4 linked regions of the Homo sapiens genome follow. The protein of the gene in region 3 interacts with the protein of the main gene of each other region in a biochemical or structural test. Each region holds a gene or a part of one and is shown on either strand. Other genes may lie near its edges.

Region 1 (5,713 bases), on a different chromosome or scaffold from region 3:
GACAGCCACCGCTTTCACACCCTGGTCTGGAATAAGGAAACATCGGAGGGAGAAGTTGACTGTCTTGATAATTAGCCTGACCAGCAGGATGAATGCAAGACTGACAGTGATGGACTCTGTGACATGGTCAGGTTGAGCTGAAGCCACAGTTTCTCTGTGCTGTGTTTTCTAACACATTTTTCTGTTTTTAATTAAAAAAAAAAAAAAAAGGTTTTCAGTTGCTTTTGTCTCCCTAGGAGGCAGGTAAACCAATCAAAAACAGAGTTTTCTGTGTTTCCATGATAGTGTTGAAGCCTAATGACAAGCCAGGTCTTACAGCTGGGCTCTTCAGAAAACCAGGTTTCTACATCCAAAGACTGCTTTTCTTTTAGCTGCCAGATTGGATTGTGAATAAAAATAATTCTTCCCTCTCCCTCTCCCTCTCCCCACGGTCTCCCTCTTTCCACGGTCTCCCTCTGATGCCGAGCCGAAGCTGGACTGTACTGCTGCCATCTCGGCTCACTGCAACCTCCCTGCCTGATTCTCCTGCCTCAGCCTGCCGAGTGCCTGCAATTGCAGGCGAGCGCCGCCACGCCTGACTGCCTCGGCCTCCCGAGGTGCCGGGATTGCAGACGGAGTCTCGTTCACTCAGTGCTCAATGGTGCCCAGGCTGGAGTGCAGTGGCGTGATCTCGGCTCACTACAACCTCCACCTCCCAGCCACCTGCCTTGGCCTCCCAAAGTGCCGAGATTGCAGCCTCTGCCCGGCCGCCACCCCGTCTGGAAAGTGAGGAGCGCCTCTGCCCGGCCGCCATCCCATCTAGGAAGTGAGGAGCGCCTCTTCCCAGCCGCCATCCCATCTAGGAAGTGAGGAGCGTCTCTGCCCGGCCGCCCATCGTCTGAGATGTGGGGAGCGCCTCTGCCCCGCCGCCCCGTCTGGGATGTGAGGAGCTCCTCTGCCCGGCCGCGACCCCGTCTGGGAGGTGAGGAGCGTCTCTGTCTGGCCACCCCGTCTGAGAAGTGAGGAGACCTCCGCCCGGCAGCCGCCCTGTCTGAGAAGTGAGGAGCCCCTCCGCCCGGCAGCCACCCCATCTGGGAAGTGAGGAGCGTCTACGCCCGGGCAGCTGCCCCGTCCGGGAGGGAGGTGGGGGGGTCAGCCCCCCGCCCGGCCAGCCGCCCCGTCCGGGAGGGAGGTGGGGGGGATCAGCCCCCCGCCCGGCCAGCCGCCCCGTCCGGGAGGGAGGTGGGGGGCGCCTCTGCCCGGCCGCCCCTGCCCGGCCGCCCCTACTGGGAAGTGAGGAGCCCCTCTGCCTGGCCACCACCCCATCTGGGAGGTGTGCCCAGCAGCTCATTGAGAACGGGCCATGATGACAATGGCGGTTTTGTGGAATAGAAAAGGCGGAAAGGTGGGGAAAAGATTGAGAAATTGGATGGTTGCCGTGTCTGTGTAGAAAGAAGTAGACATGGGAGACTTTTCATTTTGTTCTGTACTAAGAAAAATTCTTCTGCCTTGGGATCCTGTTGATCTATGACCTTACCCCCAACCTGGTGCTCTCTGAAACATGTGCTGTGTCCACTCAGGGTTAAATGGATTAAGGGTGGTGCAAGATGTGCTTTGTTAAACAGATGCTTGAAGGCAGCATGCTCCTTAAGAGTCATCACCACTCCCTAATCTCAAGTACCCAGGGACACAAACACTGCGGAAGGCGGCAGGGTCCTCTGCCTAGGAAAACCAGAGACCTTTGTTCACTTGTTGATCTGCTGACCTTCCCTCCACTATTGTCCTATGACCCTGCCAAATCCCCCTCTGCGAGAAACACCCAAGAATGATCAATTAAAAAAAAAATAATATAATAATAATTCTTGTCCTCTTATTTTACACTCATAATGAGAAATCACAAGTTCTTTCTTGATGATCTGTGCTATAGATTTCTACTCTGTCTCCTCAACTCTGTTGATATTTGGGGAAAATTCTGTTTTTCATAGATTCTTTGAGATGCTGATGGACCAGCTTCAGCATGTTTGAGGTTGTCTGAAATGGAGATCACTGTAAAACTGTCTTTTTCTTTTAAATTACAAGTACACTGGGGTTAACTGTATTGCTGGAAAAACATCAAGAATGACAGTCTTATATTTAAGGCACCAGTCATTGTTTCCATTTTTTTTTTAATTCTTCCCTTGGATTAATATTTTCTACTGAAAAGAAATGAAATCTCAGTTCCACTATGATAAAAGAAACGAATCACCAGTGTCTGTCAGTGCCCCCACTGCTCCTCCTCATACCAGCATTGACACTGGTAGCTGAGGAAGGGGACTGCTCAATTTCTAATGTGATCTATTCAAGAAGCCACATATAAAAAGGCATTGAGGGCTCACTGTCCAGAGAATTGCTTTTGTAAATGCTCCACAACGTATGGGCAAAAGTTTAAGGACTACTGCCTGATGTACCAGGAATCCTGAGTTCTGTGAAAATCTGTTCATTCCAAATCTGTTAAGCATTTCCAAACATCCAGAGAATGGTTTCACTGTTGAGGGTGCATGTGGCAGAATCTGTCTCTCTCTGCACCTGTCTTCTGTTACCATCCCTGGACAGTGACAGATTTTAAGCCAGCCACCAGAATTCTTTTCGAGTTAACCATTTCTTAGTTTCTGTAAATTCATGACTTGTCTTACTGAACTACAGCCTGGTTTGTAGACTTCCAACATCTACACTGCTGCTCTTCACCATTGGAATTCACTGTGGTATTTATAGTATTGGCTTCAGTCCGAGCCACAGGCAATAAAAGGATATCAGCTGTAGTTCTCAGCTACATCATGGTGTATAGATGCTGTTATTCAGGCGAACTTGCTCATGGGTGGACTAACACCTGGTTTGGTACAGAGACTGAGAAGTTTTTCATTCTGGTGTCAAAGTTTTGTTACATTATGGGTGTGAAGGGCATTTGATATATTTTTCTTAACTATGGGGTTTATTTTTCTAAATGTGGGTTGATTGACTGTTAATTGATTCAGGGTACCCTTAAAAGAAAAGAAGTTTTCCCATTGTGAACCTTAAATGATCAGAGAAGTAAGTTCATTGATTAAATTCTCTGTTGGGAGAACAAAACTTTTCTCCCTTGACACTTTATTATCTTTGATTTTTCAAAGGGCCTTGATTGGTGGTTGTGTCTCGGTTAAAATTTATGGGACTTTGCTATGTAGTTGGCATTTATAAAATCTGAAGTATCATAAATAAAGTTATTTATTTAATTATACTACCAGTCTTTTTTACTGGTCTGATTCTTTTGTGCATTCATTAAAGCTGATTGTGTGAGAGTGAACTGGGACACAAGCTAGTCTAGCTCACTGCAGCCAAGCAAACCCTGTTGATGGCTGATGGGCCTTTCCATTAGGGTTTTGCTTATGTGAAGTAATGGAATTATGTTGGTTATTTTCTTTATGAAAATAAACCAGTTCTTCCAAGGAAGTTAAAAGGCTTGGTATGGATGTTGGTGTCAGATAGGTCTGACTAACCTCTCCGTGCTGCAGCCTATACTAAGGTGACCCAGGGCCACATGTAGACAGCTAGGCCAGTGCTTTTTCCTCTTAGGGTTTCTTTGCAGAAAGAAACCTCCAGCAAGGGAAGAGAGGTGTGTGTCCACAGGAAGGGGCTCCGTGGGGATCCCATGAAGGGATTTGAGCTCTTTCAGCTCCATGTCATTTAACTTTTTTGTTTAACCACCTTGGCTTTCTCTCCTTTTTTGCTGTCCTCCTTACGGACCAGTTACCAGATTCAGAGGCTAACAGTTAGTTACTTGTTAATGCTAGTCACAGCCAGGAGGTCAGAAGGAATTTTCTACTTCTGGATCCAAATGTTACCTCTTAGGGGAAGTTATGCCCCCTCAACTATTGTCTTATTATAATGAATCTTTCCTTTTTGGTCCTTTTAAGTAACCACTCAAAACTTTTCATTTCACTGAAAAAATATGAAAAACCATGACAATAGGGCTGGGTGCAGTGGCTCACGCCTGTAATCTTAGCACTTTGGGAGACCAAGGCAGGCGGATCGTTTGAGGCCAGGAGTTTGAGACCAGCCTGGGCAATGTAGCAAGACTCTGTCTCTGCAAAAAAAATTAAAAGATACCTGAGAGCTCACTTTAATATCAAGGTATTTGCATCCATTCCCACCCTGTTAGCTCTTAAGGGAGGAGGGAAATCAATTCCAACCATACTTTCCTGTGATGGAAGATGTTTCCTCTTGAAAAAATGCCAATACAGATTTTTAAAACCTATTGTTTTCCAAATGCACTTTGTAAGTTTTTGCTTTTAAAATAGCTTCTTGGAACCAATTTTATTGTATTTGTACTTAATTTTTGTTCTCATCTAAATGTGCATTTTCTGACTGTATAGAAGAAGCTTTGGTATGTAATTTAATAATAAATTAGAAATCTAAATGATTGCATTTGTAATTGTTTATATTGAAACAGTAACCATCAAGGTAGTTTGGGGATAGAGATTATGGTATCTCTGGTGTTGATAAGTGTTTCTCATGATGTCCTGAAACCCAGGATGAAATAATACAGGTGCTGAAAAGCTGTCACATGTCATTCAGAAACCATCATATGAACAGTCCACTAGTATTTTAGCCCTAGAAGTGAAGGGGAATCTCTTAACATGAAACTTCAGGAGGCATAATGGGAATCTACAATTGTAGAATTGGCTGGGTGCAGTGGCTAACACCTGTAATCCCAGCAGTTCGAGAGGCCGAGGCAGGAGGATTGCTTGAGACCAGGGATTTGAGACCAGTCTGGGCAACACAGCAAAGACCTTGTCTCTACAAAAACTAAAATTAGCCATTCATGATGGTGTGCACCTATAGTCCCAGCTACTCGGAAGGCTGAGGTAGGAGGATCATGAGCCCAGGAGGTCAAGGCTGCAGTAAGCAACGATTGTGCCACTGTACTCCAGCCTGGGTGACAGAGACCCTGTCTCAAAAATAAATTAATTTTTTAAAAATCGTGTACTGCTGGGCTTTAGTACATTAGTTGTGCAACCAGCCCCACTGTCTAATTTTAGAGCTTTGCAATTAATCCAGCCAGTGATCAATTCCTCTTCTATAAAATGGTGATAAGGATGGCTACCATAATTGTGCCCTGATTATATTGTCAGGGTTATGTGAGGAAATGCTCATAAGCATCTCAGCAAAGCCAGGGGTACAGGGCTCACCTGACATAAGAGATATCCTTGGGTTTGTCCTAATAGCGAGAAACCGGGCCTCTTTTGCCTCTTTTTTTCCCTCTTGCTGATGTGGGAGAGGAGAGAACATTCAAGAGGTGATCAGCAGACATCCTTAATTTTGATAAAGGCAGCTGAGCGGGGAAATATAAGGTCGGTTCTGTGTAGATAGACAGGTGGAACCCAGCAATCAGTTTAACCAGCCTCCAAGCGGTTCTGATGCATGCCAGAGGTGGAGAACCACGCTCTATAAGTACACACATTCTATTTAGTCATTCCATTCTAGACCGATAGCTTTTATTTTTAGTTTGGAACTATTACAAATTGTGCTGCTCTGGACATTCTCGAACATGGGTTTTGGGACACACATGTACACTTTTCTGTTGCTTATACCTAGGAATAAGATTGTTGGATTATAGGTGATGCACATACTCAGTTTTAAGATATGTTGTCAGACATTTTTCCAAAGCAATTGTGCCAATGCCCGTGCCTACCAGTAATGTGTGAATATTCCATTTCCT
Region 2 (7,028 bases), on a different chromosome or scaffold from region 3:
GTTTTGTTTTTTGTTTAGGGTAAACTTCATGATCCAGAAGGCATGGGAATTATTCCAAGAATAGTGCAAGATATTTTTAATTATATTTACTCCATGGATGAAAATTTGGAATTTCATATTAAGGTAAATTCCTTGAGGAAAGATTATATTTTATTTTACAGCAAGAATAATGTTCTAAAAAAATAGTAAATGCTGGTTTCTTTAATTTTAAAAATTGTTTTTCTGGAAAGGTACAGTTGAAAGATCATTCAGGTTAGTAAACTTGGATTTTTGTTCATCTGCCATTAGATGAACAGGAATGTTAACTAACGTAAATGATTAAGTCTTTAGCCTCCTTCAAAAAATAAAGGAGGTTGCTTTACTGCAGAACTTGAAGGTTTCTACTACATAAAACTATTCTAATTCATTTTAGATGAAGATAATGTAATTTATGTCCAATGGGAAGACTGCTTAAATAACTAAGCTAATTTGGCTAATTTATGTCTTCCCATTAGAATGTGAGCTATGGCTGGTATGTTGATAACTGTCTCTCTAGTCTAAACAATGCCTAGCACTCAGACCTCAATATGCGAATAAGTTATATAACTTTAGTTGATCGGTGTTTTTTTAAATTTGCCCTTTAGGTTTCATATTTTGAAATATATTTGGATAAGATAAGGGACCTGTTAGATGGTAAGTTAAATTCTTGCTAATCAGTTTTAAATAACATCTGTTAATTCCTTTTTAATAATAGATGTGAGACTATTTCTTTGTAACCTATATGAAATTGTCTTAAGTTATTGGAAATAGACAAAATTTTTTTTCTTCTAAAGTTTTAGTTGAATACCTTTAAATAGAATAACTAGTTTAAAGCGATGTTTATGGGTACTTCTTAGTAGTAATTAGAGCATTGGACTGGGAGTTACATAATCTGAGCCCTGAGTTCTAGTCTTCTGTCAACTGTCAATTAGATACATTGTCCTTAGGCAAATCATTGAACCATTCAGGGTTAATGTTCTTGTTTATAAAATGTGGGTGGTAGGTTGGAGTGGTCCTAAAATTCTATATTGTTGCATTGGTTTCTATTTACATCTCCTGCTGTGTCTGTAAGGTCTGCTTTAGAGCAATGTTTTAATATGTTTTTAGAGTTCAACTATTGCTGTTAGGCTGCTCAGGAAAGCCTATCAGTTATTTCATATCCAGTGTTAAGAGTTTTAGGAGAATGTTGCTAACATTTGTTTTTCTTTCTCAGTTTCAAAGACCAACCTTTCAGTTCATGAAGACAAAAACCGAGTTCCCTATGTAAAGGTATTTATAGTACAGTTGTCTAGAAAACCCTGTAATACTTTTTTTTTTTTTTTAAGACAGAGTCTCACTCTGTCGCCCAGGCTGGAGTGCAGTGGTGCAATCTCGGCTCACTGCAACCTCTGCCTCCAGGGTTCAAGCAGTTCTCCTGCCTCAGCCTCTTGAGTAGCTGGGATTACAGGCATGCGCCACCACGCCCAGCTAATTTTTGTATTTTTAGTAGAGACGAAGTTTCACCATGTTGGCCAGGCTGGTCTTGAACTCCTGACCTCGTGATCCGCCCGCCTCTGCCTCCCAAAGTGCTGGGATTACAGGCGTGAGCCAATTCATTTAATATATGGAGGCTCGCTCTGTTGCTCAGGCTGGAGTGCATGGCATGGTCTCGGCTCACTGCAACCTTTGCCTCCCAGGCTCAAGCGATTCTCCTGCCTCAGCCTCCCAAGTAGCTAGGATTACAGGCACCCGCCACCGCGCCCGGCTAATTTTTGTGTTTTTATTAGAGAAAGGGTTTCATCATGTTGGCCAGACATTAACATATTTTTAAAAATTATTTCACAGGGGTGCACAGAGCGTTTTGTATGTAGTCCAGATGAAGTTATGGATACCATAGATGAAGGAAAATCCAACAGACATGTAGCAGTTACAAGTAAGTAGAAAATAACACTGGTTAGGATTTAAAACCAGCTTAAAATATCCTTATCCAGGTGATTAATTATAAGATTGCTTCAGGGAAATTGTTAAGGGGAAATCATGTTTGTTTATATTTGTTTGTGTAATTTCCTTGCAGATATGAATGAACATAGCTCTAGGAGTCACAGTATATTTCTTATTAATGTCAAACAAGAGAACACACAAACGGAACAAAAGCTGAGTGGAAAACTTTATCTGGTTGATTTAGCTGGTAGTGAAAAGGTAAAGTCTTCATGTATTTTGACAAATATTTAAGCATCTTTGTAAACTTTAGTTTGAGTTGGGAGTTACGCAGGGTTCATTGTTGCATCTTACTTACCAAACTGGATTTGGTAACCTGAGATTTGTAACCGCTGATGCCAGTGCCTTATGATGATATCAGCTGAATAATCAGTTCCAAGTTACTGTTGTTTGACCATACTCTAGTTCAACCCATAAGTGGTTTCTATGACTTAAGATATGTTCATAGTGAGAACTGGTTCAGCATATGTTGTTATAAACTTTATTAGATATCCCTTTTCTAATTTTTGATACGTATTTTATCCATATTGGCAGTGGGGTCCCTATTAAAACTGGTAACTCTCGATTAGTCTTTTCTGGTTTGGTTGGACTTATTTCTTTCCTTTGGATTATTGTTTCATTATTACAATTCTATACAGTCTGATTCTAGTCTATATCAAATTAAGTTTGAATGTTATAATAGGGACCTCTGACCATTTTTGCTGTTGTGCTAATTTTGTTTCTTCTGCTTAGAATGATATATCTATTCCGTTCTACTCTGAAGTCTTACACACATCTTTCAAAGATTATCTAATCTGAGAAATCTCCTAAGCTATTTCTTCAGCCAACATTGCTAATTTATTGTTCTGACCTATCTTTAACATAGATACTAGCTGGGCATGGTGGCACATGCCCGTAATACCAGCTACTGGGGAGGCTGAGGCAGGAGAATTGGTTGAACCCGGGAAGCGGAGGTTGCAGTGAGCTGGGATCAAGCCACTGCACTCCAGCCTGGGTGACAGAGTGAGACTCAGTCTCCAAAAAAAAAACACCACAACATAGATATTTAGATATTTTATATATTTTTAAAAGAAGCAGATTTGCTTATATAATGTGTTTAAAACTCAGTCTCTGTTTTCTAACAGTTACAACATCAACATTATGCATTAGCCAATTTTAGAAGGTTCCTGTTTTCTAATGTAGCAAAGGGGACTAACAGATTAATGAACTACAAATTTACATTTAAATTGGTTATTTTCAAGAGTACCTACAAACTACAGATAAAATTTGATGTCTCTCTAATCAAACTCTTAAGAGTAGTACTCAAGAAATGGTGGTATGCTTGGCAAATAAGATCATGAAGCTTTTCATGTTCTTTTTTCTTTTTTACTGGTTATTGATGACATATGAACATTTTAGAAAATGTAAAGAAAATTATAAACTTGTAATTTTGTTTCATTCTTTTGAAATCTTATGTATAGGTTAGTAAAACTGGAGCTGAAGGTGCTGTGCTGGATGAAGCTAAAAACATCAACAAGTCACTTTCTGCTCTTGGAAATGTTATTTCTGCTTTGGCTGAGGGTAGTGTGAGTATACATGTCTTCTATCTCCCTGTTACCTTATGGGGCATTATTTAAATATAGGTGTATATGTGTGCCTGGGTGTGTATGAGAGAGAGAGAGAGAAAGAGAGATTGAGATTCAATGTGTTTGAATCAGTATGTGTAAGTTAGTTGTCTTTTGGGAGTTTATTTTATAATAACATTTTATTATACTGGTCTTGTTTTCTTTCTTTGTTTTTGTATGCAGACATATGTTCCATATCGAGATAGTAAAATGACAAGAATCCTTCAAGATTCATTAGGTGGCAACTGTAGAACCACTATTGTAATTTGCTGCTCTCCATCATCATACAATGAGTCTGAAACAAAATCTACACTCTTATTTGGCCAAAGGTTTGTTGTTAAGAAAGTACAAAACCTAAATTTAGATAGACCTTTTGTTTATAAAATGTAGGAAAATGTGAGCTGTTATTCCAACCTGTACATACTGTTTTGTGCTAGACACACTCAGTTTGAATTGATGACAGATAATACAAGGTGGGTCTGATTTTTAGACTGCTTGGTTTAAGTTTTAGTACACATTAAAGTCAGATGTAATTTTAGTCAAATTTGTGTGACAAGCTGTAATTTGGTATTAAAGAAAATAAGCATTTGAATCAAATAATGAGGTCAAAGCCTGGCAAACATAATCCTCTGTTAAGCCTGTAGACATGCATGACAGGTTAATATAATCTGTATGAGATGATTAGGAAAATCAGTAATGATGATTCCGTCTTTGACTTTCAACAGTAATTTCTTAATTCAGCCTTGCAAACAAATTGGAAAAATATAGGCCTTTGTCTTTTATTTTTAGTGGTTTGTTGATTTTTTTTTTTTTAAAGCTATTCACAGATTTTGGAGCAGACTCAAATTTAGTTGAGTTGTAAATAACGTCATATGTTGCGGCTTTTAGTATTTAGTCTAAGAGATTACTGGACAAGCATAAGTTTCTTAGCCATATATACATATATTCCATATAGATAAAATTAAAAATAATTTCAGTCTCATCCTTTTTTTCCTCCAATTACATCTCTTAGGGCCAAAACAATTAAGAACACAGTTTGTGTCAATGTGGAGTTAACTGCAGAACAGTGGAAAAAGAAGTATGAAAAAGAAAAAGAAAAAAATAAGATCCTGCGGAACACTATTCAGTGGCTTGAAAATGAGCTCAACAGATGGCGTAATGGTAATAACTTAAGAATTTGTCATCTTCAGTTTGTTAAATACAGATTTAGAGCATAGAAACGTAGAAATAGTTCAGCAAAATCAGTAAGTGACTAGATCAAGAAATTTAATAGACATCGAAATAATTTTTAAAAAAATTAATAGAAATCCTGGAGCTGAAAAATAAAATGAGCAAAATGCAAGAGACCATCAGTAGTAGAATTAATTAAGCAGAAGAATCTGAACTTGAAGACAGATTATTTGAAAATAACACAGAGAAGAAAAAGTTTGAAAGAACGAGGCTGGGTGCACTGGCTCATGCCTGTAATCCTAGCACTTTGGGAGGCCAAGGTGGGCAGATCACTTGAGGTCAGGAGTTAGAGACCAGCCTGGCCAACATGTTGAAACCCCATCTCTACTGAAAACACCAAAATTAGCCTGGCATGGTGCTGAGCGCCTGTAATCCCAGCTAATCAGGAGTCTTGAGGCAGTAGAATTGCTTGAACCCTGGAGGCAGAGGTTGCAGTGAGCCTAGATTGCACCACTGCACTCCAGCCAGGGTGACAGATTGAGACTCTGTCTCAAAAAAAAAAAAAAAAATTTTTAAAGGAATGAAATTGAAATTAGCTTTAGACGTCGTTTTTTTATTAACCACTTTATTTTCTTATTTTAGGGGAGACGGTGCCTATTGATGAACAGTTTGACAAAGAGAAAGCCAACTTGGAAGCTTTCACAGTGGATAAAGATATTACTCTTACCAATGATAAACCAGCAACCGCAATTGGAGTTATAGGAAATTTTACTGATGCTGAAAGAAGAAAGTGTGAAGAAGAAATTGCTAAATTATACAAACAGCTTGATGACAAGGTAGGTATTGCTTGATTTAGGTCTGCTTTATATTAGGATACTATTGACATGGGTGTTTTTATTTTCTAACTTTTCTCATTTCAGTGCTGTGGGCACTTAGGATCTTTATGCATCTTCCTTGATTTCTGTTAATCTTGTAAAAATTATTGTATTAACAAAATAAAAAGTCATAATTTCAATTTCTGTGTGGAAACTGTATGAGCATGTATCTTTTCTTCCCCCTCTTTTTAAGCTAAAAGAACTTTATAAGGCAGCAGTCCCCAACCTTTTTGGCACCAGGGACTGGTTTCAGGGAAGACAGTTTTTCCGTGGATCAGGTCGGGGAGATGGTTTTGGGATGAAACTTCCACCTTGGATTATCAGGCATTAGATTCTCATAAGGATCCTCTAACCTAGATCTCTTGCATGCACAGCTGATAATAGAGTTCGCGCTCTTAATGATATTCTAATGCTGCTGATCTGGCAGAAGGCGGAGCTCAAGTGGTAATGCTTGCTGCTCACCTCCTGCTGTGCTTCTTGGTTCCTAACAGGCTTCCAGTACTGCTTTGTGGCCTGGGGGCTTGGGGACCCCTGTTCTAATGAAAATTTGGCATTGGGTCATTGGGAGCCTCAATGATACCAATTGTTAGAATCAGGGCTCTGAAGACTCCAATAAAAGATGATGTGAGAGATTAAGGGAAACACAATAGAGTGGAAATAATATCTTCCTGCTTTGCATATAGAAGTAATGTCAATAGTATGAATAATAGCAAACTAAGAACGTAATAGAATGGAAGGCAAGAACAAGAGTAGTAAAGAGATTAGAAGAAAATATTTTCTTAAGTTGATATTTTTAATATATTTTAAGCAGAGATGGCAGGTTCGAAGTACATGACCATTATAAGTATTGATAATTGAAAGAAATTCCTTTTGTTTTGCCATTTTCTTAAAAGAGATTAAAATAAGCAATGTTGAATTTAGAGAAATGGTTTTGAAATATTTCTGGGGAGTAGTAATCTTATAACCTGTATTGGGAAACAACTAGAACCAGGTTGTTAGCTACTGGTTAACCGGATACTTCACAATTCTAGGATGAAGAAATTAACCAGCAAAGTCAACTGGTAGAGAAACTGAAGACGCAAATGTTGGATCAGGAGGAGGTGAGTTGAATACCTTTTACATTGCTTCCAGAAAAGCTTTATAGTTTTGTTTTCTGAATCCCATTGACTTTGTCTTTAATAGTTGTATAATTTTGGGTATGACTGTCTTTGTGGGAATAAGAATGTCACATGGATAAAGTGAATTTTTACTTATTCATCGTATCTACCCAGATACAATCTGTTGTTCATTTCCGCCATCTTTTTTTTCACCCTGGTTCTTGACATTTCTCTTCTTGTCACTTACTTTGGATCCTCATTTTATCTTCTCACCCAGCAGAGCAGGG
Region 3 (7,028 bases):
AGCTGCGTAAGCAGTCAGCCTTCAGCATAACACGTAGGTTTTGACGATTAGTAGAAACGAGAAAAATAATCTGAGAAAGAGGTTGAGAGAGGAGACATGAAGGAGAAAAATAGAAAATATGCTTTTTAGATAATTCACTATGAATAAACAATGTTTCTCACATTATGGGACTGCTTTACAATTCTATAAAAGAAGGAAAAATCTGTGTTTTAAGCCTCAGCGCTGGATACTTTCTGCAATGTCATCCCTTGTCAGCAAGTACCAACCTGATAGGAAGATACTGATCAATCGGTATTCACCGGATACAGAAATGAATCCCATGGGAGTTATAAAATTTCATGGTTTTGTCTTGACCTCAATAAGTTTAGCATCTAGCAATCTTAATAAAAGCAATAAACAATAAGTTAATAAATAAAACCAGAATTAAATGCAATAAAACATTAGAAGACAAATTTTGAGGACATATGTGATTAATTTCCAAGTGAATGTAACCAACAATAAGTAACATAAAATCAGGAGGGCGATATCGCAGTGGACTGGAACAATCTGAGAGAAGAGGCAGGCCTTGAGATGGCTTTTGGAGGTTGCAGAGAGGTGGGAGAGTTCTGTTAAGCTGAAGTCACAACATATGCAGAATATCAAGTTAGGCAAGCCCACTCTACAGTTGGCAAACCCTGAAAATGCCCATTGATTTGGGTGGAGTGGGAAGCTTGGAGGGAATAGGCTGGGATGCAGAGTTGGAGCCTTCTGTGGAAGGCTTTGAATGTCAAGCTGAGAATTTGGTACTTTATCCTCTAAAGTTGATTTCTGAGCAGAAGCTGATATAACAAAGTAACCAGGTCTTTTTAATATCCAGAAATTACTATTGACAGAGTGGATTTAATTTGCATTCTTCCAGAAGTAGAGGGGAGCAAATTGGTATCATAAGAGATGGTTAATGAAAAAAAATCAGTCCTTACTGAAGCATCTTTTAAGACTACTTTTCAGGATACATATACCTACATAGACATATAATTCCTGCTTGGAAGTTAATTGCAAGTTTCCATTTTCCATTATTGACTAAATGAAATTATGCAAGTTGAGCACTTGCCAGGCAGACTGAAAAGAAAGTCAAGAATCTGGTGATGAGACACCCCAGAAGGTCCCAGAAGGTGCACTTGAATAATAAACATGGTGCTGAACACTCTCTTGCCCTCTGTGAATATTCAGCATTGTCAAGTGCACTGACGGGAGGAATGAAAAAAGTTGTCATTTCTTCTGAGCATGTTTTGAGCAGCATGACATATAGGACCAGCCCCAAGTGGCTAAAAATGGGAGGAAAAAGATGGAATGGTAGAATTTTGAAAAACTGGAATGGGTAGTATATCAGATTTCTTTCCCTGCCTATTTTGCTGACTCTTGCTAGTTACCCTCACTTCAGGGCTACCTCGAGGTCTGGATTACACCCATTTCCTTTCTAACCTTGTGGTTACTACTCTCACAGAAGAGCTTCAAAAATCCAAATGCTGACAGAATTGCTAAGCCAAAATAGTCAGTGGGTTCATGTAGAGGAAGAAATGGCAACGGTAGATACAGATTTTACTGCCATTTCATTTCTGGCTATAAGGTATCAAGAGACTATCCTCATCTATTCTTCACTAAAACACTGGCAGTAGAGACACCACAGGATAACATTTTTATATCCAAGCTGACTACCTAGGGGAAACTTAGAGGTAGTGACATTTGATGCTTTAGGAGGTCAGGTTGGTGGTTATTAAACTGAGTCCAGGGGCTACACAAGCATCAAGTAAGGTGAAGGAAGGAGATATGACATAGCACTGAGGAAGTAGGACATGATGAGGGGACAAAAAGTTAAAAAAAAAAGTCTTACAAGAGGAAAAAGACTTCATAGAAATTTCTAGAGAACCCCAGCTACACTGTGAACTCCTCAGAATTGCTATTATTGCCTTAACAATAATACCTACTCTTTCTACATAATTTTCTTCACAAGACTCTCAAGCACTTCACCCAATATGAAAGTCCAAGGAATTTCTGATTTCTAAATAAATAGTGCAACCCACAGACACATATGTTCAGATATAGTATTAGATCACATTTAGTAAGACATAAATTGATTTAGAATGACAGAGATACCCAAATCAGTGATTAATCAGAATGGGCTTATGGGGAAGAATGTGACACTCATTCTAAAAGTGTTTACCTATACTGGCTCACTGTATCCTCCTAACAACCTTGTGGTCAGATTACTATTATTATTTCCATTTCGCAGATGAAATAACTGATGCACAGCAAGGGTAAGTAACTTGTCGCAGAGCAGAGCCAAGACTTAAATGTAATCAGTCTGACTCCAGAGATTAAGCTATGAAGTGTATTTTATGCTACCTCTTGCATCATCCATATTTTTCATATTGGCCAAATAAGGCATAGAGAATGTACATGTCTTTTTTTTTTTTTTTTTTTTTTTTTTTTTTTTTTTGCAGTCTTTTCCTCCTCACTTGGGTAGCAAGGCCTGAAGGTAAGGATGCTGGTCAGAGCCAGGAGACCCAGCTCTAGCCCTGAAACAACTGCTTGTAATTTCCTGTTTGGAATTACACAGTCTTTAAATTAGTCAGTGCACCACTGTTGAACTTGGTTTCTTTACTGGCAGAATGATAGAAGTGGACTAATGATGTCCAATATCCCTACCATTCAAAAATCAATGAAATCAGTGCTGAAAACCCCAGGCAATGGGTCCTGGCCTAGTGACCGATGGCCTCAGCTGGCATCATCTTAATAATGCTTCAGTAACTGATCTGGACCCAATTGGAAGATTAATTACATTCATCGCCTCCCTCATCCCAATCCTTATTTTTTCCCCCCTCAGAATTGCTTGCCTTCATCTTTCTGAAGCCTTCTCAGAGTTAAGAAATCCTGTCTTCTTCCTCAAAGCCCTATTCTGAGTCATCACTGCTTTGGGTATCTCCTGTCCTTCTCAATCAGATTTGTAGCTATCTAGCACATACTGTCTCCTACAACCTGCCTAAACTTTGTATAAATTTCTTTCTAGACCTCTTCTTGATCATCTCGTGTGTCTGACTTAGCAATGTATTAGCTGCAGTTCCCTCACTCATCCTCTTACTTCTTCTGCCGCTTAGCAAAGAGGAAACAGAAGCTTTTATAGAATCTGTGAGCTGTAAAGTACTTTAAAAGTAACATTCCTGTGTGACCTGAATCTCATGATACTGATAGCCAGCTCAAAAACTAATCACATTGGGAGGATGTGGGGTAAAATGACATCACAGGAAAGCTTTAAAAACATAGGACAAGGAGAGAAGGAAGCTTTAAAGCCTATGAGGTCAGAGGTCAGCAGTTGGTGGTACAATGTTGATTAATTAAATTCATAGTCACACATCAAATAAATTCACATGTCCCGGAGGGGAAAAAAAAAAAACACATTCGCCTTGTCACAACCTACTGCAGATTTCAATGTCTTTCCACCAAGGTAAAACATGGTATCACAAGAGGAAATCCTAACTGATTTTCTTATTGTTGACTACAGAGGTCAACCTCAGCAGTGACTGACTTACTGGTAAGAACAAATCTGTATCCCTAAAAAGAGATGGGGGGAAATCCTATTTAAGGATTAGCATTTCCTTCTAAATGCTTAACAATGATTCCAGAGAAATTCAGTCAAATGATGCCTGCTCCCGAATGATGCTGAATAACAGCTGTACTGGGCTTATGGCTTGCTTTCTTTGGTTGTGGAAAAATATATTTCATCCTCTTCTTTGCTGTTGTTGATATGGTTCATATTACTCAAAGATGTCTAATTCTCATGTCTTAAATTGAGACTGTTGGCACTTTCTGCTGACTCATTGTGTCTTAATCTTCCAAGGTGGTCCATTTTTACTTAAAGAAAAAGGTTATTTTCCTCCAAAGTGGCAGGTTCTACAAAATGACCATCTGGTCCCAGCTTCCCCATCACTTCCTTTATTCAAATGACACTAGTCACAGATCTTGAACTTGAGAGATGACTTTCCATGCCTGTAACCTTGAATCAGTGGTTTCTGTCCTTTACTGATAACAGCAAGTAAAAAAATGAAAGTCTCTTAGGTGCCCCCCTGAGGCCAGAGTTCAGCCCTACACTCCTGCCTCATTCCTTTTTCAGAGAATTTTCTCAGTTGAGCTCTGAAAATCCTGCAAGTTGGACAGAGTTCCCTTTCCATGAAGAGTCTCAGACCAAGTTGTTAATCTCCTTTATTTATGTTCATCTTTGGTACAGTTTCAAAGAATAATAACTGGCAAATTCCAAAACAGTGAATTTCTTAAATTTCCCTGCAGTTATTCCGAAGTTGGTCTGGCAGCTAGGTATAGGTAAATCACACTGTGACTTCTCTATCAATAAACAGAAAATGCACAGAAATAAATGCCAGAAAGACTGCTAGGAAGAACACTGGCAAACTATTTCAATACGCATTAGCCTTGTTGAGTGAATTTTTTATTTTAATGGGAAAGTCCATTCCTAATTTATGCCAGAGAAATTGCTGAATGTATCTACTTTTTCCAATTCCATGATCACTGCCCATGTATTGCTTCATCATAAATCAGCTGCTATTATGGCATTCTTCATTAATTAATCCATTGAACAAATATTTATTGAACACCTGCCATGTACCAGGAAAACATACACTGGTTCCTAAAGTCAGAGCTGTAAATAAAATCATCATGTTTCTGCCCTCCATGTGTTATGCTAGGTGTCCCCTCTTGAGGTGTCATTATTTTAAAAGGCATGTTTCAATGGGATGCCTTTTAGAATCTAAGACATTAATTCAATGTAGAAAAGAGCTATGGCTCTCTAATCAAAATATACAATCTATTGAAGGTTTCTACTGAGCTGTCAGTATCTACAGAGAGATTGCTATATCATAAACAAATACATATTAAGAACCAGCCTCAGCCATCACCGAACTCAGTAAATATCTAAGGTATGTCTTTGTGTGAACTTGTCTCTATTTACATGGCAATCAACTAGGATGTCACTAAAATGTCCCTTAAATACATGACTATATTCCAGTATCCCAATCTGTTGGGATCTCTCCCTGTAGAGACCACTTTCTGCCGCTCATGGGAGGAAGGGGTCAAGCTTTAAGAAACATGGTACCTCCTGGGCCAGAAATCCTATTCCCAACTCCAAAACTCATGGAGCAATGCAAGAATAGGTTGACTAAGAAAGGATCCTTTGGATGAGAGTACTTCCCAATCCAATCCACTTTCCTCCTCTGAAAACTTCCTGTCATTAAACAAAGTTCAGTGATTCGGGATCAAGTAGAATTATGTAGTGATTCTGGATCAAGTAGAATTATGTCTTAATTTCCCAAACTCCTACTTCTAGAAATTCACCTCTTACCAATGAGCAATGCCCCTATCTCCCTTGTAAGATTGATCACACTGCTTTGTAGTTACCTACTTATGTATTTCTCTTTCTTAATAGACTTTGGAAGTCTTTGAGAGCAAGGGTAATATCTTAGCTTTCTTTGAATCTTCAGTACCTATAACAGTGCCTGCCACACCCATGTATGCAGGAAATAAGTGAGCGAATGGGGATACCAGCTACCCCTTTGCAGAGAAAAGAATTCTACCACTGTAAGTAATCCTGCTTTTTATTGATCAAATGTTATGATCAGAATAACTCAGGAATTGTTGTGTACCCTTGCACATAGATTCATCCTAAATATTGGAATAAAATTATGTCCCAAGGAATTACTTAGGTTTACCCTAACTAGCTGCCAAACTATGGCAAATGGTATAATATTCTAATCTGTTGTTTTATCACTTATGAGTCAGGAGTTAAAATGCTAACGAAGGATCAAAGGATTCTCAATAAAGGCATTGCTAAAATCAGGTTTATATTCAGAGATTAAAAGCCATTCACTAAGAGCATTTAAAGTCAAGCAGTTTAGCATATATGAATTATAAGTTTAAATGTTTTACTGTTCACTAGGATGAAAAGGATATTTCATACATCCATTTGAGACATATATTACATTCACCAGTGGGGTAGATTTATGGCTTTGGCCAACTTGTGTTTTCAGGGTCACATATTTGCTGCTGTGCTATTAGAATTGGCATGGTGGACACAAGTTTTTCATGTCAATTCCGCTTCCTTAAAAGTGTCCTTCAGAGACACCAGTCTCTGGGCTTTTCCTCTCAAATAGTCAGTGTCCTCTTGCCTGGGAGAGAATCATAAGCCTGGGCATGATTTGGTAAATAAGTCCCATTTGTCCTTAGAAAAAAACCTTCACCAGTTGAGCATTGAATTTTGCATATCTTTTTTCCCCATTCCTTCTCATGAAAACACGGGTTACTCTGCATCCAACTTTCTCCAGAGAAGACTGAAGATACTACCACTTAATGACCACAAGGAAAAAAGTAACTAACTTCCTAAATGTCTACTGTGTGCTGCACTGGGCACTTGATGTATGTTGTTTCCTTTATTTTCCATGGCAGCCTTAAAAGAGTTCGGAACACTTGTCTCTGACTGCAAAGTCCATGGTTTTCCCCACCACCCCATAAATTATCCCATGAGTTGCACAAAATACATTGAGATCCTCTAACAGAAAGCACACTGCTGATACATAGAACGTGAGTCAGCCAAATCTAAAAAGCTGAGTCCTCCAAGCTAAATAGCCAGGTGAGATATGGTGGTGTAAGTGACCAGAGAAACTATGTGTCCAAACAAGTTCATGGAGCAATGGGTGGAGAGTCAGCTGGCTGCATGCCAGCTCTGCCACTTCAATTGTATAACCCTGAACAATTTACCTAATCTGAACTGAGCCTCACTTTTATTTACATCTGTAAAAGGAGAGCAATTGCTGCCATGCATATATGTCAAGTGGTTGTCGTGAGACCTAAAGGAGCTAATGCTTGTGAAGTAGTTACCTCCACCACTCTGAGAAAGAGGAAGGGACTGTTGTTATGTTCAGTTACCTGCTATTTGCCATACCAGATTTCCAGGGTTCTTTATTATAGGTTACATGAAGGCCATATGC
Region 4 (7,688 bases), on a different chromosome or scaffold from region 3:
CTCCCCACTTAGGCCCTGGGAGGTCACCCAGAGTGAGGTGGGTGCTAGGAACCCTCTCCCTTGCGGTTATTCTCCCCTCCTACAGAGAAAGGAGATCCACTGGCATCAGCAGCACCGAGCATGGACCTGGCACACAGCAGGGGATCAGGGATCCAGTTCCGGTCTCCAGTTTGGGCAACAAAAGTGAAACTCCATCTCAAAAAAAAAAAAAGAATTGTCAGGGTGGGGCCGGGCACGGTGGCTCACGCCTATAATCCCAGCACTTTGGGATGCTGAGGCGGGTGGATCACCTGAGGTCAGGAGTTCGAGACCAGCCTGGCCAACATGGTGAAACCCGGTCTCTACTAAAAATACAAAAATTAGCTGGGCATTGTGGTGGGTGCCTATAATCCCAGCTACTCGGGAGACTGAGGCAGGAGAATCGCTTCAGCCCGGGAGGCAGAGGTTGCAGTGAGCCGAGATCGAGCCACTGAACTCCAGCCTGGGTGACAGAGTGAGATTCTATCTCAAAAAAAAAGAGAAAAGAAAAGAAAAAAGAAATGCGAATTCTCAGGCCCCTCCTCAAATCTGTTGAATCTGAGACCTTGAGGGGAGGGGAGCAATCGCTGGTTTAACATGCCCTCCAGGCAACTGGGCTTTTCCAATTACTTTCAGAGCCACTGCCCTACCACAGGGGGAGCCCTGGCTTAATGAGGGGGGCAAGGTGCCTGACTCAAGGAGCTCCCAGTCTGATGGGACAGATGGAACCCTTGCCATCTGACAGGGAAGACAGCCTTGTGCTCAGGAAATTCCCACTGGGAGGGGAACACCTCGGCTTTTCACTCCAAGCCCCTACGCTGGTCCCTCCCTGCCAGAAGCAACGGGATAAGGTTCTCTGGAGGAGGCTGGCTACGGCTCCGACCCCAGAGAACCTGCCTCCACTTTCTGTCTCCATTCTTCAGAAAGCGGGTTTGATGTGCTAATGAGGGCATCAGTTAGGGAGCATCATTAGCATTCATTACAATAACAAGCAGGGAAGCGGGGAGGGTCTTTAGAAATTTACTGCCACTCACTCCTCTCCTATGGAGTGGGAGGAGGAGCAGGAGGGTGAGGAATGTGAGAAGGGAGGCTTAGGGGCTCTGGGAGACCAGGCTGTGTTCAGAAAGCCCCAGAAGCAGGCCTGGGGCAGCGGGAAGCACCCTCCTCCTCCTTGGCTCCTCCCCCACCCCTCTTGTGCCCCAGGTGCTAGGTCACTGCCCCTGGTTACTTGACCCAGAATAGGACCAGGTCCCCAGGCCCTCACTGTCTGCAGGCCACCCTTAGTGGAATGTGGATGGTTCCTTGGGGTCTCATGAAATGCCTGGCCAGACAACAGCCCCATGGACCGGGGGCTTTCTCAAGGATACTGGGCTGGGGGTGCTCCAAAGCAGCAGAGTGACCAGTTTGGGGTGTCCCAGCCATTATTTCCACGTCACCTTTTCCCTGTGCCTTCTCCTAGAGGCCCAGATGCCCTTCTCTGCCCACCCCAAGGCCCATCTCCCTTTGCCTGCCCAGATGTTTGTCCAGATGCAACCCCTGTTCCTATTGCATCTTGGGGAAGGAGAGGCAGGGCTGAGAATTCTCTCCTCTAGGGTGCACCCCCATAACCTCTCTCTCGCAAGCTCCCAGGAACAGGTGAGGGCTGGGTGGGATGTTTGGGGAGGCAAGGTGAGTGGTTAGGATCTGCTGTTCCAAGCCCCAAACATGCCAGCTGCCCCCTCCCCACCAAATACACTGCCAGAGGCACAGGAGAGGAGGACCAGAGGGAAGTTACCTGTTGAGGAATGAGAGCGGGGGCGGGGCGGCACCTGAGGCATCTCAGGTGGAGGCAGCTGGCAAATTGGTTGTGCCTGGGCACCATGCCAGCTTACAGGAGCAATTCTCATCTCTCAGCTGAAGTAATACCTGTGTTGCTTTTGCCCTGATCAGTGGAGATGGTGTCCCCAGCCTTCTCTCTCCACCAGGAACCCCTCCTTTTGAGACCTGGTGGGAGGAGGGAAAGGCACGTATTTTTCTTGGGGTCAATGAGGGGCGATGATGCCAGGCCATCTGTCCTCTGGCTCCACTTTCAGCCTTGGGACCTTGGGTTCTATTCAGGGAGCTGTATCCCTTCTCACCCCTCCAGGAGACCCATGGAGTCAGCTGGGCAGGGTGGGTGTGGACAAAGCATCTTTGGGGAAGAGAGGGCAGAAGGGTCTCAAATGAGCTGATAGCTATGAAGATGATCAGAAATGCTAAGGATTCATCATTAAAAGGTGAGCTATACAAATTAAAAATATTACATAAATCTGATTTAAGCTCCTCACTATGGAGGTGGCCTTCATGATGAGCGAGCTCACCTTAGGGCGGGTAAAAATGGATGCTTCGTTCTGCTGACACCTTTGGAACTGTTCCAATCCCTGGGGGCTGCATCACAGAACCTTTCCCACCCCACCCCAAGCCACTGGGGTTGGGCAGGCAAATCTCCACATGATGGCACAAGCATCTTTTCAATTGTCAACTAGAGGTAATGCCTCAGGTCACTCTCTCCACAATAGGACCAGATCCCTGTCTCCTTCCTGATTATGGCATGGCTATACATCTTAACTCTCAGCCACATTCCTGATCTCAGTTCTCTTCTAACGACTATATGGTTATGAGACTTTGTGTCCCAGGGGTTGTCCCTGCTGTGGCGACCCACAGGGTTATGAGATGATGGTGATAGAAGAAAGGCAGGGAGCTTTGACATAAGGCAGATGTGGGTTTGAATTTCAACTTTGCTGCTCTTACATTGGGCAATTGGCTATATCTCTCTGATAGGGGGTTGAAAATGCTCACTTCCATCAGGCTGTCGAAAGGGTAAAATTAGAGATTATGGTAGAGCACCTGCTAATTTTCTTCCCCTTAGGCACAAAGTGGGGGAGGGAAGAAATCTTGTCCCTTGGGGGGAATCTGAGTTGGGGGCAGGTGAAGGGCAGGAGTCCTGTGCAGTCAGTGGGTGAGGAATCTGAACGGAGGAGCGACCTGTGCCAGAGCTCTGGGCTCCCAGCCGCTTGGGAGGTGGTGTCCGTGTGCTGAGGGGAAGCTACCCTTGCCTCCCCTGAGCCTCCCCCACACAGAGCCTGCTGCCTCCCATGCCCATCCTGGGCAGGCAGCCAGGCAGGGCACTGGATGGATGCCCACTGTGCGCTCAGAGGCCAAAAGATGGGCACCATCCAGTTGGCAGAGGGAGAGGCAGTTGGCCCAGGAGGGAAGAAGTCAGGGTGCCTGCCGCTGGGGTCGTGTGCCCAGACTGTGTGTCCAGGACACAGCTCTTGGCTGTCCTCCTGATCTGTCCCACTGGAGCTGGGAAGGGCCTCTCCTCTGGTCCTGGCCCTGGCATCTGAGTTACTGCAATTGGTTATTTATCTCTAAGGGGAATCTGGGACCTTGTCCCTAGCTGGGCATGTGGTTGGCTCAGGGGCAGGCCTGGGGGTGGATAGGAAATTGGGAGAGCCCAGATTAAGGTTGCAACTGGGTAGACCAGGAAGTGGGGAAACCGGTTTGTCATTTGGGCCACTTGGGGTGGGGTCTCCTCTCCTGGGCTCTCTGCCTGCCTGCCACTCTGCCTGATGGCCCACAGTGAATAGAAGTACTGTGTCCACTCTCTTGCTCACCTAAACTGCTTTTGGAAACTCCAGAAGTAAATAAAAGGGACAGGGGACTCAGCCCACCTTCTCCTCCGCAAGAAAGCTTGAGAGAGAAGGGACTGGCCAGAGCATCGGAGCGAGGGAGGGAGGGGGCCGCTGGAATCACGAGGTGTCGGCGCGGGCCTGGGTCTGGGTCTGGGTCCGGGTCAGCGCTGGAGAAGTCTGCGGAGCCAACAGGTAGGCCAACGAAGGTGGGACGCGGAGGGGCGGGGGACGGCAGGGTGGAGCCGAGCTAGTGCTCTGCGGGCTGAAGTAGAGGCGGCAGTGACGCCGCCAAGCGAGGCGTGAGCAGGGACCGTCGCTGGAGCGTCCTACGGTGGGGTCTCACTGGCCGGAGGGGCGCGGACCTGCCTGCAGTTCCCGCGCACGCCTGCAGGAGGGGCTGCAACCCGGAGCGGGGGCGAGGCGGCGGCCCAGCAGGGGGCGCCGGGGAGCCCAGACCCTCCGACCGAGCCGCGTCTAGGCGCGCTGGGGTGAGGGGTCGCGAGGCAGAAGCAGAGGAGGATCCGGGCGCTCCCAGCATGGGGCGGCTGTTGGTTTCCGCGGTCACCTTGGCTGAAGGGAGCCCCCAGTCTCGCCGCCCCGCCTCCCCACCCAGCCCCGAGAGCCTTTCCATCCCTAGGCGCGCCCGGGCTTGGAGACCCAGGAGTCCTCCACCCTCCAAGTGTCCCCGCTTCCCCGGGTGCCTCCTCCGAGCCGGTCCTCGGTCAATGTATTTGTCTCTATCGTGGCGCGAAGACTACTTGGGGTGGGACGAAGCAGGTGGCGCGGGAAGGAGAGAGTGAGCGCGCCCCGCGCCCGGCCCCGGCCGCGCGCTGCGGGATCACGCGGTGAAGCTGGAGGGCGCGAGAAGGCGCAGTGCCCCCTCCCCTCCCCCGCCCCCGCCGCCCCGGGCGGCCCTTTGTAAGTTCCGGCCACACGCGCGCGCCCGCGCCGCGCGCGCGCCCGCCCGCAGTGACACACCCGCGCCGGCCCGCGCGCGCGCAGACACACACTCAAACACACACACACTCGCTCTCGCACACTCGGTGACACGCCCGCGCGCGCGCTCACCCACACGCCCGGCCGCCGGCGCCCTCCCAGCTGGTCCACCCCGGCGGGGCCCGCGCCCCCGGCCCGCCCGCCTGGCACCGCGCCCCGGGGCTGGGGCCGAGCGAGGAGCCCGCGAGGCGGCGAGAGGGCGAGCGCCAGGCAGGCCGGCCCGGGGCCCCCGCCCCCCGCGCCCCCGCCCGATGGGGAACGCTCCGTCCCAAGGCATGTCCCTGTCTCTCTCCTCCCTAATGTGCCTCCATGCTTAAGTGGAAGGTATTTCTGTTTTCTTTGTGTGTTTTCCCCCTCGGCCGGGGGCGGGGGCGGCGGCCGGGCCGGGGAGGCGGTGGCCGGCGGGGCGAGGGATGCTGGGGCGCAGGTGTGTGGGGGCAGGGGACCGCTGTGCGCCGGGCTTGGGAGAAGGACCCGGGCGAGAGGAGTGCTGGGACCAGAGAAGGGGGCAGGGTGGCGAGGCAGGAGACTGGGTGGGGAGGGCCTCACTACGCCCCGGGGTGGGGGCCAGAGGGGTTCAACTGTAAAGGGGCTTGTGTGGAAGGGGGAGGGGTGAGGAGAAGAAGGGGGATGGATGGTGAGGAGGGTGGGGGGAGAAGGGCGTCCCTCCGAGGTGGGGGAAGTGGAGGATGCAGGGGAGGGGAAGGGGATGGAGAAGTGAGGGGTGCATCAAAGGCCTCCCTCCCCCAGCTCCCAGAATGGGGTGCACGGGCTAGGATGGTGGTGGTGGGCCCTTTGCGCCAGCCTCCAGGGAGGGAAGGGGATGAGTGCGTTCTGGGGTTGGCCGCGTTGCCAGGATACAAGCCTGTATTCCACACACCCCCCCTCCCCGCACCTCGAGGCCCTAGCCCTGGAGACCTCTGAGCCTCAGCAGCAGTTGCAGAAACTGGGGACCAGCTCCCCGCTCTACCAGCGGGTAGGGAGGGCCACGAGAGGGAGGGGTTTAGGGAGGGGCTATTTGATCTTAACCCCTCCCCCTGCAGAGGCCAGGGGGCAGGGGAGGGCGCCCCCAGCTGGGGAGGGCATCTAGGGTGAGTGAGAAGATAGGGAAGGCAGGCGGCTGAGGGGTGGAGGGTGGGGCTGGGAAGGGGACGCACCGTGGCCCCCCCTCCCCTCCCACGCACCCCCCTGCTACGTCAGAAGCTCCCGGGCCAGCTCCGAGTCCTGTCGGTGGGGGCAGCAGGATGCTGGTGGAAGCAGAGGGGACAGGCCGGGTGCCTCCGCAGCTCAGCTGTCAGGGCCCGGCGGGGCGTGTGCGGCTGCTGGTGCTCGTCCCCCAGCCCCACGCGTCCCCATGCAGCCCTGGCAGTGCCTCCGGCGCTTTGCCCTGGCCTGGTGGGAGAGGACGGCGGAGGGCAGAGCCCGCTCTCCCAGGGAGGAGGCTGGACCGAGGGACCCTGGGGGCCGAGGGGAGCCAGGTGAGCAGGCGCGGGGAAGTATGCAAGGAGGGGGATCTTCCCAGCCCCCCTCCTCAAATGTTGTGGGACAAGGAGGTCCTGCAGCACCCCAACTTTAAGGAAAGTGGGCTCCCCGAGCTGGGGGTGGGGGTTTCTGGCAGCAGCCTTTCAAAAGGAGATGGAGGAGCTGCTGTCTGTTTTGGGGAAGGGAGAAACAGGTGAGGCTTGGGAGTGAGGGAAGCTGACCAGACTTCCAGGTTTGTGGGCCTGAATGTTCCTTTGGGTGGGGTTTGAGCACTTTTGGGGGGTCGTCAGGATACCTTCTTCCCGACTCTTGGTATCTTGGTCTGGGTGACCTTGAGCCAACTGCTTTGCTGTCTAATTCCTTGCCTCAGTTTCTCTTATTCCCATCCCTTTCCCTCTTGTTGATCTTTAAAAATTGATGATGCATTTGATGGAGATTGTGAGGCTGTCGCCACTGGTGGCAGCTGTGATGGTGGTGGTTTCTGGTGTGGTTGTATGTGGGGAGCAGCTATGGTGCATTTGAGGGGTTTTGCTGGTTCTGGTTGGTGATGGGCCACTCCATACAGGTGTCAGGGACATGGGAAGGAACATTCACACAGGAAGGAGTGCTCCAGGCAAGCTGAGAGTTGCTGGGGACAGAGACTTAGCTGGTGGCCTGGGGTAGAAGCAAGGGATGGGGTGAGGGCTCTGGGCATAAGGGGAGGGTTTCCAAGAATAAGATGCACCCCCCCTCCACCCCGCTGTCCCCACCCAGACTGCCTGGCACCCAGGCACCACTGGCAGCAAGTGCAAAGGCTTTGCCCTGGCTTCCTGCCACCCTGCCTTGGGGACAAGAGGGTCTTTGTCCAGTCCCCCCACAACAATTCCTGCTTCTTCTGCCCTTTCCACGATGGCTGGTTCTCTGTGATGACCCTCAAGGCTGGGATGGAGGCACAAATCCCCCTTCTGGCTCCCACTGTCTGTGCCCTGGAGCTCTATCTGGAAGAGGCAACTGTGGTCCTCGGGGAGTGCTGAGTGGAGAGGGATGCTCCACTAGGGGAAGGGTCGCTCGAATGAACCCCTCAAAGAGCTACCCCCACCCCAGGCTTTCCCCTGCCCCTCTACTTGCCTCCTTGCCTAATGCGGAGGGTCTGGGGTCTTCGTGGCCTCATCCCTGCTGGGTTCCAGGCGTCTTAAAGATGTGCAGGATACTGGGTTGGGCACTGGGATGCAGGGCCTCTCTGATGCACTCTCGCGCTCTCTCTCTCTCTTTCTCTCTCTCTCCCCCTCTCCCCCCTCCCTTCCCTGTCTCTCTCCCTCTTCCCTCTCTCTCGCCAGGGACCCACCCTGGAAAAAGGGTTTAATTAGAACCATTGATTCCTTCTTTGGCTGTGGGCATCGACAGTGTGGTCAGAGCTAGAGGGTGGGGGTGGCATGGCTGCCATCTGCCTATGCCAACCTTGGAATTCTCTGCCAAAACCCCAGCCCTGGAAGTGCTTAGGAGGGAGGCGGCTGGGCTCTTTGAAGTACCCAGTTTGTTGAGCCCCCACCCCCACCCCAG

The links.
Region 1: the proteins of SNAP25 (region 3) and GOSR1 form a complex in vitro, tested with the Homo sapiens proteins (one study listed by BioGRID).
Region 2: the proteins of SNAP25 (region 3) and KIF5B form a complex in vitro, tested with the Homo sapiens proteins (one study listed by BioGRID).
Region 4: the proteins of SNAP25 (region 3) and SRCIN1 form a complex in vitro, tested with the Homo sapiens proteins (one study listed by BioGRID).

What each region holds. Positions count from the first base shown.
Region 1 is NC_000017.11:30,522,401-30,528,113, forward strand, and holds the end of GOSR1 (Golgi SNAP receptor complex member 1), read left to right. Parts: 3' UTR 1-5,192; downstream 5,193-5,713. UniProt on the Homo sapiens protein: Involved in transport from the ER to the Golgi apparatus as well as in intra-Golgi transport. It belongs to a super-family of proteins called t-SNAREs or soluble NSF (N-ethylmaleimide-sensitive factor) attachment protein receptor.
Region 2 is NC_000010.11:32,032,422-32,039,449, reverse strand, and holds part of KIF5B (kinesin-1 heavy chain), read left to right. Parts: intron 1-18; coding exon 19-123; intron 124-623; coding exon 624-672; intron 673-1,231; coding exon 1,232-1,287; intron 1,288-1,842; coding exon 1,843-1,930; intron 1,931-2,071; coding exon 2,072-2,196; intron 2,197-3,455; coding exon 3,456-3,560; intron 3,561-3,782; coding exon 3,783-3,928; intron 3,929-4,611; coding exon 4,612-4,760; intron 4,761-5,411; coding exon 5,412-5,605; intron 5,606-6,675; coding exon 6,676-6,744; intron 6,745-7,028. UniProt on the Homo sapiens protein: Microtubule-dependent motor required for normal distribution of mitochondria and lysosomes. Can induce formation of neurite-like membrane protrusions in non-neuronal cells in a ZFYVE27-dependent manner.
Region 3 is NC_000020.11:10,221,817-10,228,844, forward strand, and holds part of SNAP25 (synaptosomal-associated protein 25), read left to right. Parts: intron 1-4,861; exon of another isoform or gene 4,862-4,964; intron 4,965-5,470; exon of another isoform or gene 5,471-5,622; intron 5,623-7,028.
Region 4 is NC_000017.11:38,602,936-38,610,623, reverse strand, and holds the start of SRCIN1 (SRC kinase signaling inhibitor 1), read left to right. Parts: upstream 1-4,671; 5' UTR 4,672-4,918; coding exon 4,919-4,940; intron 4,941-5,905; exon of another isoform or gene 5,906-6,021; coding exon of another isoform or gene 6,022-6,145; intron 6,146-7,688. UniProt on the Homo sapiens protein: Acts as a negative regulator of SRC by activating CSK which inhibits SRC activity and downstream signaling, leading to impaired cell spreading and migration. Regulates dendritic spine morphology. Involved in calcium-dependent exocytosis.